Regions from separate parts of the Homo sapiens genome. Here regions 2 and 3 are each linked to region 1. The links come from fine-mapping of genetic effects on gene expression. A gene starts in region 1. Each other region holds a variant in brackets. All regions are shown on one strand. Distances are between the middles of the regions.

Region 1 (4,239 bases):
GAGATGGTTAATGGGTACAAAAATATAGGTAGATAGAATGAATAAGATCTAGTATCTGATAGCACAACACGATGACTACAGTCAACAATTTATTGTACATTTAAAAATAACTAAAAGAGGGCAGGTGGGGTGCCTCACACCTGTAATCCCGGCACTTTGGGAGGCCAGGGCAGGCCGATCACCTGAGGTCAGGAGTTCGGGACCAGCCTGCCCAACATGGTGAAACCCCATCTCTACTAAAAATACAAAAGTTAGCCAGGCATGGTGGCGAGCACCTGTAATCTCAGCTACTCTGGAGGCTGAGGCAGGAGAATCGCTTGAACCCAGGAAGTGGAGGTCGCAGTGAGCCGAGATTGTGTCATTGCACTCCAGTCTGGGCAACAAGAGCGAAACTCCGTCTCAAAAAAAAAAAAAAAAAAGCTAAACTAAAAGAGTATAATTAGTCACACAGCTGGGCTTTTTTAAAAAAGGAGTGTAATTGGATTGTTTGTAACACAAAAAAAAGGATAAATGCTTGAGGTTTTGGATACCCCGTTTACCCTGATGTGATTATTACACATTGTATGCCTGTATCAAAATATCTCATGTATTCCATAAATATGGACACCCACTATGTGCACTTAAAAATTAAAGAAAGAAACAGAGACCCTCAGCCCTGACGCCCTGATATTATGCCAAAGCACCAAGTCATTGGGTCTTGAAAGGATGAACTAGAAAGAAAGACCAAGGTTAAAAAGGGAGAAAAAAAAAGAAAAGGAAAGAGGTTGGCAGTGCTATGACATCCATCCTAGCCCATGAACCACTAAGACATTGGATTGTGATTTCAACTTCAACCCGTCAGAATCAGAACACAGTTGAGCCCTTCTAGGAAGATTTTCTAAATCCATAATTACAGGTATAGAGAAAGAAAGCGCGCACACACAATTTTCCACCAGGTGAGGACAGAATAAGATCACATTCACAATACTTTAGCCCTACATCGCTCAGAGATCCGTGCTGGGGCAGAGCGCGGAGCAGTGACCCAGAGCCGAGGCAGGAAGCTGCCGGGTCCCTGAGAAGGACCTCTCCTTCCCAGCCTGGTGGGCAAGCCATGTGAGAGCAGCGGCTTTGGGGAGCCCCCGGGTTTGCAGGGACCTCCAGTGACCCTGGAGCCCCTGACGCTGCCTCTACACTTTGAGGGCAGGAGTTTCAACTATTGTATCCTATTAATGAAAAACAAAATCCTTCGTTTACTTAGAAATGTTGACATCCAAACACCGCAGAGAGAACCAGTAAATAAATACAGCCGGTCTATTTCGAAACTGCCTTCTAGAGTTGTGCCCAAGCAGACTTTAACTGAGTCAAGAGAGAAAAGAGAACGGTGTGTGCCTTTTGACCCTTTTGCCGCCCCAAGCCTCCCACCCCGACCCAAGGAAGGCGAGGGAGGAAAAGCTGGGAATTTCAGGTGCGCTCCGAAACCTCACGCAGGGGGTAGGAAAGCAAGCGGAAAACCAGCAGACACTCCCCCCTCTCCAGGGACGTGGGCGCTTTCCAGGACGGTCCCGCGTCTCCAGCGCCCTGGCGCATCCCAGGCGGAGAGAGGATCCTCCTCCCTGGGCTGTGGGAGAGACCCGACTTCACAGGACCAGCTGCGAGCTGACGGATCCGGGACTCCTAAGTCGAGCCCAGGCTCCTGCCTTAGCTGCCTGGCCATCTCCCAACCCTCCCAGTGAGGCTCAGCCCGGAGGGTCCCCCCCTTTTGTTCGCGGGGAGAGCGCGTCGCTGCGCAGAGCTGCGTATCCCCCTGAGCTGCCAGCCCCGCTGCGGGGGCGCTTCCCTGGGTCCACTGCTGGCGTTCCTCGCGCTCCCGCGACCACCCGCGCAGGCGCATGGATCCCCAGCTGTCCCCGGCCCCCCGCCCCCCGCCCCAGTACTCACTTCTCCCCAGTCTCTCCGTTTTCCAAGCCGTCTCCTCCACCGCCCCATAGCGCCTCAGAGGCTTCTCGGCTTCCAGATGGGTGGACAAAGATTGCTTTAATTCCATCGCTGATCCCCGTGGCCAGGTCGACGGGTCTCCCTTTACTCCATTCCCGTTGCGGGCTGCAGGGAGGGAGGTGGCTCCAGCCAGCAGCGTTTTAACGGGCCGGGCGCCCGTGACGCTGCTCCCTCTCCTCCGCCGCCGCCAGCGCCCGGGAGCGCCTACGGGTACCCAGAAGGGGCAGGGATGCACGGCACATGCGCAGTGGAGGCTTGGAGGGGAGGCTTGGGGGCTGGGTAGGGAGACAGAGGGGCAGGTGATAACTCTAAGAAAAACAACAAACAAAACAACTAAAATAAAAGCAACACAAAGGAAGTGAGAACAAGGCCCCTGCCTATTCTAGAGCCCCTAGTGATGCTTGGCATGGGGCTGGCACTGTGGGCGGCTTGCGAGCTGTAAGCCGGCAGCGGGTTTTGAGTGGGATTGGTGAGCCCGTCTCTACCTGCGGGCGATGCATCCGTCTTTCTGGGGAGCATGCAGAGGCGTGAGTGTGGACCTAGATCTATGGGTTCTGGGCTTGGCTGACTGCTTTTCTGTGAGAATATCTGTCGTGTGCGTCTGTTTAATTTGAAGTGCGACAGTGGATGCCTATGTCAGTTCCATATGTGTTTGCATGCACTTTGGGGAGAGAGAGAGAGAGATGAAAATATTTTGCACACAGGTATAGCAGAGCTGTTTGGAGCATGGGGCTTTACTTTCCAGAAACCCCAGAGGTTTATCTTTAAAAACAAACAAACAAACAAACAAAAAACACCATGGCAGTGCCTGGGCACGATGGCTCATGCCTGTAATCCCAGCACTTTGGGAGGCCGAGGTGGGTGGATCACTTGAGGCCAGGAGTTTGAGACTAGCCTGGCCAACATGGTGAAACCCCATCTTTACTGAAAATACAAAAATTAGCCAGCTGTGATGGCGCAGGCCTGTAATTCCAGCTACTCGGGAGGCTGAGGCAGGAGAATCGCTTGAACCTGGGAGGCAGAGGTTTCAGTCATCCGAGATCATGCCATTGCACTCCAGCCTGGGCAACAAGAGGAAAACTCCGTCTCAAAAAAAGAAAAGAAACGAAAAAAAGAAAATGATATCCCAGTAGGAAACAGGGAAAGAATATGAATAGTCATGTCATGTGGGCAGAGGAGGAAGGCCTAATGTGAGAAGCTGCTCAACCCCCTTAGTAATAAGGAAAATGAAAATGTAAATAAGAATATATCATCCGATAGGCAAAAACTAAAAAATCTAACAATCATGTGTTGTAAAAGATGTGGATTTTTTTTTTGAGACAGAGTCCAAAAATGCTGGGGTTACAGATGTGAGACACCATGCCTGGCATAATTTGAACTTTTATCTAATGCTAGTGGGAGTATAAATTGGTACAACTGTTTTTTTCTCTCTGTCACCCAGGCTGGAGTGCAGTGGCATAGTCTCGGCTCACTGAAACCTCCACCTCCTGGGTTCAAGCTCCTGAGTAGCTGCGACTACAGGCGTGCCACCATGCCCAGCTAATTTTTTGTATTTTTAATGGAGATGTGGTTTCACCATGTTGGCCAGGCTGGTCTCGAACTCCTGAGCTCAAGTGATCTGCCCGCCTTGGTCTCCCAAAGTGCTGAGACTACAGGAATGAGCCACTGTGCCTGGCTGCATGAATGTAATGTTTATTGTTCTCAGGTATATATGTATAACTCTACAAATTATATATAATAGCGCTATTTAACATTTTCTTATAATTTATACAAATGATATCATACTTTATAATTCTGCAAGTTGCTTTTTTCTGTTGTTGTTCCACAATATGCTTTTCTTCCTTTTAAAAAGATAGAGACAGGTTTTCACTGTGTTGCTCAGGCTGGTCTTGAATTCCTGGGCTCAAGTGATCCACCTGCCTCAGCCTGCCAAAGTGCTAGGATTACAGGCGTGAGCCACCGTGCCCGGCCCACATTATGCTTTTGAGAAATACGAATTCTGATTCATGTAACTCTGGTTCATAGTCTACTGTATAGTATTCTACATGAATGAACCATAATTGGTCTATTTTTTCATTGATGAGGTATAAAGATTATTCCCAATTGTCCACAATTACAAACATGGCAGCAGCAAATGTTTTTATACTCATTTCCCTGTACGACTGAATAGGAGTTTTTCTAGGGGGAAAAATTACAATGGCATGGGGTATGCACATCTGCCAGTTGGACTAGAGTGTCAACCTGCTTTTAAAATTAGTTGTACCA
Region 2 (4,239 bases), 150 kb after region 1:
TAGGTTGCCCATAGCTGTACATCTTATAAGTGCGAGCTCCCCAGATAATTGCATTCATCCACAAGAGCAGAGTTAACTGCAGCATCATAGCCATCCAGGGAGCGTAATGCCCCGTTAAAAATAACAAAGCGTAGAGACCCAGCCTGAACTGAAGATGTGTCTGTGGTTGGGGTTCAGGGTTCTTTGATTTCCAGATCTACCACCCAGATATTTGTCAAGTTACATCTACTTCTGGTGCTCATTTCCACATCTCTAAAACAGAAATAATAACAGTGCCTTTTTGTTGCTGAGAGGATTTTGTGGCGTCATGCAGATGAAGTGGCTCTCAAGAGCCTGACTTAGTAAATGTTGGCTGTGTGTTGGGCATTATTAGCTAAGATGTACAAACAGCAGAGGTTTGGTTTGTATGAGTAGATCATATTCCTGCCTGTTGTCACTGAGGGAGAGCAGAGTCCTAAGGGGAGGGGACACAGGTCAGGAGAATTCTAGGGGGTGGGGGATGTTTCTGATTTCTCAACAATGGGTAAATCTGGGAATCTCATGAGAGCTTCAGTGGGTAAATCTTGGAATCTCGTGAGCAAAATGGGGACATGAAGAAGGAAGAAAAGCTGCTTGGAGGATTGGTGAAGGAGGAGGGAAAGGGAAAAAAAAAGGAAAAAACATTTAGGTGGTGCTAAGTGCCACGCATTTTCCATTTTTGCATCAGTGAATTGTAAAATCACACTGCAAGGCTGGGGATATTATCCCCATTTTACAGATGAGAGAGAGGAGGCTGGGCAAGTTAATGAACTGGTTCAAAGTATCACAGCTAGAGAGTTGGAGCCAAAGTGAGATCGCACCGCTACGCAGACTCTAAAGCCCTTGTCTGTATATTGAATCAAATTTCCCCTTTTGCTGGCTTAGGTAAACTGAGGCAGGAAGTGATGAGAAAGGGTTAAGAGACGTCGGCTGCTCCTTAAACATCTCCCTTCCCAGTGTCATTTGCCATCCATAAACTCTTTCAAAATGTGATAACGGTTTTGATTTTCCTGTCATCTCGATTTGATATGAGAAATTTGGGATTTCCAAATTGACAGAAAACTCGATTTTAAAGATGCTGGAAGGGAAACATCTGTGAAAAATCACAGGAATAATGTCAACATCTGTCCCTGTGAAAGGAAATTGCTGAGGTTCTCAATTTACAGCCAATCAATCAATCTTGGAGGCCAGGGTGCTTGCAAATTGAAATGCATGTTGAAGCTATAGGGATGGCTAATTAATTTAGTTTGTATGCCTATAAGATTTTTCATTGTTTCCTATTCAAAAAAATTCTCTTTTGAATAGGAAACGTGTGCATATGGTAAAAAAAAAAAATTAAACAGTACCAGAAAAAGTATACAGTGAAAATTAAGTTTGTTTTCCATCCCAACCACCAGTTCTTCTTCTCCAAGGTCAAAAGTGTTGCTGGCTTCTCTTGAAACTTTCCAGAGATACAATCTTTATATAGAAAAACATATGTATATATGTCTCCTCCCGGTTTTATAAATGATAGCCCATTGTACATATTACACTGCATCTTGACTTCATTCAACAATATATCTTTGAGGTTTTTGCATAGCAGTCCATATAGACATTCCTTATTCTTTTTATCAGCTGTGTAGTATTCCAGTATACGGATGTGTATAAATTAATCAGTTCCCTCATGGTGGACATTCAGGATATTTTCTGTCATTCTCCACAATTTATGCTAGTATGTCCATCTTGGTGTGTGTTCATCAGTAGGATACAAATCTAGAGGTGAGCCTCCTGGGCAGATGGGATGTGCATTTAAGGTATGATGCCTTCATGTAAAGGGAAGGTTTCCTTTTCTTTTTTCTTATTTTATTAAGAGACAGGGGTCTCACTATGTTGCCCAGGCTGGTCTTGAACTCCTGGGCTCTAGCAATCCTCCTGCCTCAGCCTTCCAAAATGCTGGGATTACAGACGTGGGCCACTGTGCCTGGCCAGGTTTTCTTTGTTATCTTGGAGGGAGCATCACCCCC[G/C]TCAAGGAGATCAGATTGGTGAAGGTGGGATGCTGTGTCTGAGAGCTTAATGACTGTTCACAGATATTGTGGCTGCCCTTCTCTAATGTACCTGCTTCTTCAGGCCCAAAAGGTGGAAATGATGTTTGTTTCTTACTTCTTTGGGGCTTTGACTGTGCCATTGAGATTTTGTGCTCAGGGATAAACTACCGTGTATTTACAGTTACCTCAACCTGTGAGGTTTGATGCCTCTTTCTTTCTTTCTTTCTTTCTTTCTTTCTTTCTTTCTTTCTTTCTTTCTTTCTTTCTTTCTTTCTTTCTGTCTCTCTCTGTCTTTTTTTCTTTCTTTCTTTCTTTCTTTCTTTCTTTCTTTCTTCCTTCCTTCCTTCCTTCCTTTCTTTCTTTCGTTCTTCTTTCTTTTTTCCTTCTTCTTTCTTTTTCTTTCTTTCCTCTTTCTCTCTCTCTTTCCCTCTCTCCCTTCCTTCCTTCCTCCATCCCTCCCTTCCTTTCTTGCTTTTTTTTTTTCTTGCTTTGTTACCCAGGCTGGAGTGCAGTGGCATGATCATAGCTCACTGCAGCCTTGAACTTCTGGGCTCAAGCAATCTTCCTGCCTTGGCCACCCTGGGATTACAGGTGTGAACCGTGGCGCCCAGCCTTGGCCACTTTCTTTATTCTAAACTTCTTTGTTCCATACTTTGCTTCTTTTCCCTGGATCCATCCCCACCAGCCTCCCTTGTCACTCCAGTGATAGGACACTCAGTCTTGCCAAGTCAATGTAAACCCAGACCCTTCTCATTTAAAACCTAGTCTCTTTGGTAAACAGTCAATTCAGGATCCTCACATCAATCTGAGTTTTAAATCTTAATTAGTTGAAAGATTTTCATATCTTTATCTTTCCACTTTGGTCACTGGCTTCGCTGTGGGTGCTGCACCACTCAGACCTCTGTGCAGGACCACCGAGGCCCTCTGTCCCCCCAGCTGCTGGGAGACCTAGCTGCTAACAGCTCATAGCAAAGTCCTGCCTCTGGCAAGAAGGCACCTGCAGGAAGCCACCTAGTGCTGGGAAATCCTCCTCCCCTCCTAGGCATCCCATAATCCTGGAGGGTTACAAAGGCTCTGTCCCTTGCCCCTCCGTATGGGAGTGTATTAGTCAGCGTTCTCTAGAGGGACAGAACTAATAGGATAGATGTATATAAAAAGCGGAGTTTATTAAGGAGTATTGACTCACACGATCACCAGGTGAGGTCTCACAGTAGGCCATCTCCAAGCTGAGGAGCAAGGAAGCCAGTCCAAATCCCAAAGCCTCAAAAGTAGGGACGCTAACAGTGCAGCCTTCAGTCTGTGGTCAAAAGTCCAAGAGTCCCAAAGCTGAAGAACTCAGAGTCCGACGTTCGAGGGCAGGAAGCATCCAGCACGAGAGAAAGATGAAGGCTGGAAGACTCAGCCAGTCAAGCCCTTCTATGCTGCTCTGCCTGCTTATATTCTACCTATGCTGGCAGCTGATTAGATGGTGCCCACCCAGATTGAGGGTGGGTCTGCTTTTCCTAGTCCACTGACTCAAATATTAATCTTTTTTGGCAACACCCTCACAGACACATCCAGAAACAATACTTTGTATCCTTCAATCCAATTAAGTTGACACTCAGTATTAACCATCACAGGGGGTGTCTCAGGGGTCCTGGCGACTGTTCCACAGTGCCACTCCCCTCTCTGCCCAATGCTGCTTCCTTGCTTTCCAGCAGGTGCTCCTCCCAGTAAACCCCCTGCACCCAGATCTCCATCCCACAGCTTGTCTCTCTAGAAACCTGACCTATGACAGGCTTATAAACACCACAACAGGGCATGGGTATGGGCCAGGAGAGCTACTCCTCTCATCTGCTGAGGGTCCTACCCCAGGACCCCTGGGGAGGGATGAGGTCCCTGTTGTTCATCTGGGTGATCATCTAACTCCTGATGAGCCCAGGAGTTAGAGACCGGCCTGGGCAACGAAGTGAGACCCCATCTCTCCAAAAAAAAAAAAAAAAAAAAGTCAAAAAATTAGCCAGATGTGGTGCATGCCCCCAGCTACTTGGGAGGCTGAGATGGGAGGATAGCATTAGCCCAGGAGGTTGAGGCTGCAGTGAGCTATGATTGCACCACTGCTCTTCATCCTGGGTGGCAGACTGAGACCCTGTCTCAAAAAAGTTGTCATGGTCCTATGACATTTTTTTAGGTCCTATGCAGGGGTGCAGGTGGAGGT
Region 3 (4,239 bases), 29 kb after region 1:
AGAAATACTAGGCCAACAAGATGCCTAGGTAGTATTATATTTCAGACTAAGCTGATTAACTTAGACTACTTAAGGCCTCTAGAGTGAGGGGGTTGGGGAGTTGTGGGGAAAAAAGCTATTAGGTAGAAGACATTCCTATATTAATTATATTTTTAACACCAGAATGAAAAGTCTACTAGAATCAGTACCAATTCTGGAAGACAGCGGCTTTGGAAATGACAGCATGTATATATGCATTGCAATTTCCTGGTTACCATGAACAAATGATGCAGGAATATATTTGTAAATACAGAATCATCAATGAATTCTTTTTTTTTAAATTAATTTTTTTTTTTCTGAGACATGGTATCTCTATGTTGCCCAGGCTGGTCTTGAACTCCCAGGCAAAAGCAGTAGTCCCACTGCAGCCTCCCAAAGTGCTGGGGTTATAGGCATGAGCCACCTCATCCTGCTGAATTATTTTATTTATTTATTTTGTTTGAGATGGAATCTCATTCTGTCGCTTAGTCTGGAGTGCAGTGGCAAGATCTTGGCTCACTGCAACATCTGCCTCCTAGGTTCAAGCAGTTCTCCTGCCTCAGCTTCCTGAGTAGCTGGGATCACAGGTGCCTGACACCATGCTCGGCTAATTTTTGTATTTTTAGTAGAGACAGGGTTTTACCATGTTGGCCAGGCTGGTCTTGAACTCCTGACCTCAGGTGATTTGCCTGCCTCGGCCTCCCAAAGTGGTAGGATTACAGGCATGAGCCACTGTGCCCAGCCTTGAATTGTTGAAACTATATACCAAACCATTGTTTATGGAATGATTTTCTAATAATATATTGAAACCATGTGATGCTATAGAACAAGTTTAGCTGAAATTTTCATATATTACAAAATATGTTAGATAGACATTTCACAAGCTTTATCCTACACAGTCCTATGAAAAAGTCATCATTATGATTTTTTAAAAAAAAGTCTTGGTATGTAAATTTATCTCAAAAAACAGCTAGAGGTTTTCAAAATAGTCCTTAAAAGTGGTATTACAGACTTATTTTCTTCTTTTTACTAATTTGTATTTTCTGAAGTTTCTAAAATGAACAATTGCAATAAAAGCTTTATAATATTTATGTTTATATTTAAAAGTAGATATTACATATAATGTGTGTATACATATACATATATACGTATATATACACATATATACGTATATGTGTATGTATATATATATATTTTTTGAGATGGAGTTTTGCTCTTGTTGCCCAGGCTGGAGTGCAATGGTGCGATCTTGGCTCACTGCAACCTCCACCTCCTGGGTTCAAGTGATTCTCCTGCCTCAGCCTCCGAGTAGCTGGGATTACAGGTGCACACGACCATGCCTGGCTAAATTTTGTATTTTTAGTAGAGACAAGGTTTCATGATATTGGCCAGGCTGGTCTCGAACTCCTGACCTCAGGTGATCTGCCCGCCTTGGCCTCCCAACGTGCTGGGATTACAGGCGTGAGCCACCATGCCCGGCCATAATGTATATTTTATATTTATTTATTTTTTTTGAGACGGAGTTTCGCTCTTGTTGTGCATCTCAAATTCCCGAGCTCAGGTGATCTGCCCACCTCAGCCTCCCAAAGTGCTGGGATTACAGGCGTGAGACACCGAGCCTGGCCCTTAATTGTTAAATATGCTTTAAATATAAAATATACCCCTGTAATCCCTGCACTTTGGGAGGCCAAGGCAGGCAGATCACCTGAAGTCGTGAGTTTGAGACCAGCCTGACCAACATGTAGAAACCCTGTGTCTACTAAAAATAAAAATTAGCAGGACGTGATTGCAGGAACCTGTAATCTCAGCTACTCAAGAGGCTGAGGCAGGAGAGTCGCTTGAATTCGGGAGGCAGAGGTTGCAGTGAGCTGAGACTGCACCATTGCACTCCAGCCTGGGCAACAGAACGAGACTCTGTCTCAAAAAAAAAAAAAAAATTAAAACTTTAGCAAAAATAATCAGAAGACTAAACTTATCCAAACATGGCTTTCCTTCTTTCTTTTTTTTTTTTTTCTTAATACAGACGAGGCCTCACTATGCGGGCCAGGTTGGTCTTGAATTCCTGACCCCAAACAATCCTCCAACCTCCGCCACCCAAAGGGTTAGGATTACAGGAGCCACTGTGCCTGGCCATGGCTTTATTTCTTATGGCTGTGTTTTTTTTCTTGTCAGAATGTAGTATCATGTAGTAGTATATTTTGTTCTCAAATCATTCCCCCACTAAAAGGAAGCAGGATGCCTCAAAGAATTGGCTGATTCTAGGGCCAGGGCAGGGCAGGTGCAAGTACAAGATGATCCTGGAACACGCTGTCATGCCAGAAAGGAAGTGGCTTAAGAAAGAAGTAAAGGAGAAAGAAGATGGGTGATGCACAGGACACAGGAACCAGCTTGGGGGAACTCCCACTGGCCGAATCTGGGACATGTGAGCGCTAAAAAT[A/G]ATTAAACCCTGCCATGAACTCTCCTCTGTGCTTCGGCAATCTCCCTCTGAATAGGCCAAAGGCATCTGACATTCAACATTTCCCAAGCTGAACTCACCTCATTTCTTTTTTGTTTGTTTGTTTGTTTTGAGATGGAGTCTTGCTCTGTCACCCAGGCTGGAGTGCAGTGGTGCAATCTCAGCTCACTACAATCTCCGTCTCCCGGGTTCAAGTGATTCTCCTGCCTCAGCCTCCCGAGTAGCTGGGATTACAGGCACTCACCACCATACCTGGCTAATTTTTTGTATTTTTAGTAGAGACAGGGTTTCACCATGTTGGTCAGGCTGGTCTCGAACTCCTGACCTCATATGATCTGCTCGCCTTGGCCTCCCAAAGTGGTGAGATTACAGGCGTGAGCCACCATGTTTATTTTTTTAAATACAGACAGGGTCTTGCTATGTTGCCCAAGCTGGTCTTGAACTCCTAACTTCAAGGGATCCTCCTGCTTCAGCCTCCCAAAGTGTTAGGATTACAGGCGTGAGCCACCACACCTGATATGCTTCCTTATTTCTTATGTGAACTTGGTCACGATAACCACCCACTTTGGTTTCCTTTGCTGCCATTACCTAACTGTGAAGTTCAAGATCCTCAGCTCTGGGTGTTCAACAGTCTCCAGGATCCAAACTCATTCCAAGTTGCTCAACAAATACTCTGTGAACACCAAACTGCCTGTGGTTTCTCCCCTCCAGGCATACCATGGTGCTTTACGCATTGTCAACTGTACTCAGCTCTTCTGCCCCTGGAATGACCTGTCCCCCAGTATGTGCATAACTTCAGATCTTTATTTTATTTTATTTTTTTATTTTGAGACAGGGTCTCACTGTGTTACCCAGGCTGGAGTGCAGTGGCACAATCGTAGCTTACTGCAGTCTCGACCTCCTGGGCTCATGCTAATTTTTGTATTTTTAGTAGAGAGGGGATTTCATCAAGTTGGCGAGGATGGGCTCGATCCCTTGACCTCATGATCCGCCTGCCTTGGCCTACCAAAGTGCTGTGATTACAGGCGTGAGCCATCCTGCCTCTTTAAAGGAAATCTTCCCAAAAAATCTCCAGATGGGCTGGGCTTCAGACTACTGGTTTGCCCTCTTTCTTCTCCTGAGGGTAGATGAGACTCACTCATTGTAACCAGTTTTTTTTTTTAAACAGTATGCAAATGTTCCTGTGGTTTTGTTCATTTACAAATCCCTGCCTGAAGCTTCTTTCCCAATTCTACTTCCTGCTCTCTTTTTTTTTTTTTTTGAACCATGGTCTCACTCTGTCACTCAGGCTGGTGTGCAGCGGTGCAATCACAGCTTACTGCAGCCTCGACCTCCCAGGCTTGCAATCCTCCCATCTCAGCCTCCCGAGCAGCTGGGACCACAGACACTTGCAACTATGCCCAGCTAATTTATTTTATTTTTGTAGCGATGGGGTCTCACTATGGTTGCGCAGGCTGGTCTCAAACTCCTGGGCTCTAGTGATCCTCCTGCCTTAGCCTCCCAAAGTGCTGGGATTACAGGTGTGAGCTGCCTACTTCTTGCTCTTTTTTTTTTTTTTTTTTTTGAGACGGAGTCTCGCTCTGTCGCCCAGGCTGGAGTGCAGTGGCGCAATCTCAGCTCACTACAGTCTCTGCCTCCCGGGTTCAAGTGATTCTCCTGCCTCAGCCTCCCAAGTAGCTGGGACTACAGGCTTGTGCCACCATGCCCTGCTAATTTGTTGTATTTTTAGTGGAGACACGGTTTCACCATGTTAGCCAGGATGGTCT

Evidence for each region. PIP is the estimated chance that this variant, and not a neighbour inherited with it, causes the effect.
Region 2: its variant is the best candidate, but not a certain one, in a credible set for the expression of BMERB1 in whole blood (TOPMed, PIP 0.58).
Region 3: its variant is the best candidate, but not a certain one, in a credible set for the expression of BMERB1 in skeletal muscle (GTEx, PIP 0.72).

What each region holds. Positions count from the first base shown.
Region 1 is chr16:15,432,438-15,436,676 of GRCh38, reverse strand. It overlaps BMERB1 (bMERB domain containing 1), which reads right to left and starts at 2,089. Exons shown (of 6, transcript NM_033201.3): 1 at 1,918-2,089. The coding sequence starts at 2,023. The region is part of intron 1 of MPV17L-BMERB1 (MPV17L-BMERB1 readthrough); the gene reads right to left. RefSeq lists an enhancer at 1,163-1,785.
Region 2 is chr16:15,283,849-15,288,087 of GRCh38, reverse strand. The region is part of intron 2 of LOC105371097 (a long non-coding RNA gene); the gene reads left to right. Among named protein-coding and RNA genes, the nearest start is that of NPIPA5, 92 kb to the left of the region's middle. The variant G/C (reference allele first, on the strand shown) is at 2,022.
Region 3 is chr16:15,403,167-15,407,405 of GRCh38, reverse strand. The region is part of intron 1 of MPV17L-BMERB1 (MPV17L-BMERB1 readthrough); the gene reads right to left. The region is part of intron 2 of MPV17L (MPV17 mitochondrial inner membrane protein like); the gene reads right to left. Among named protein-coding and RNA genes, the nearest start is that of MPV17L-BMERB1, 9.5 kb to the right of the region's middle. The variant A/G (reference allele first, on the strand shown) is at 2,456.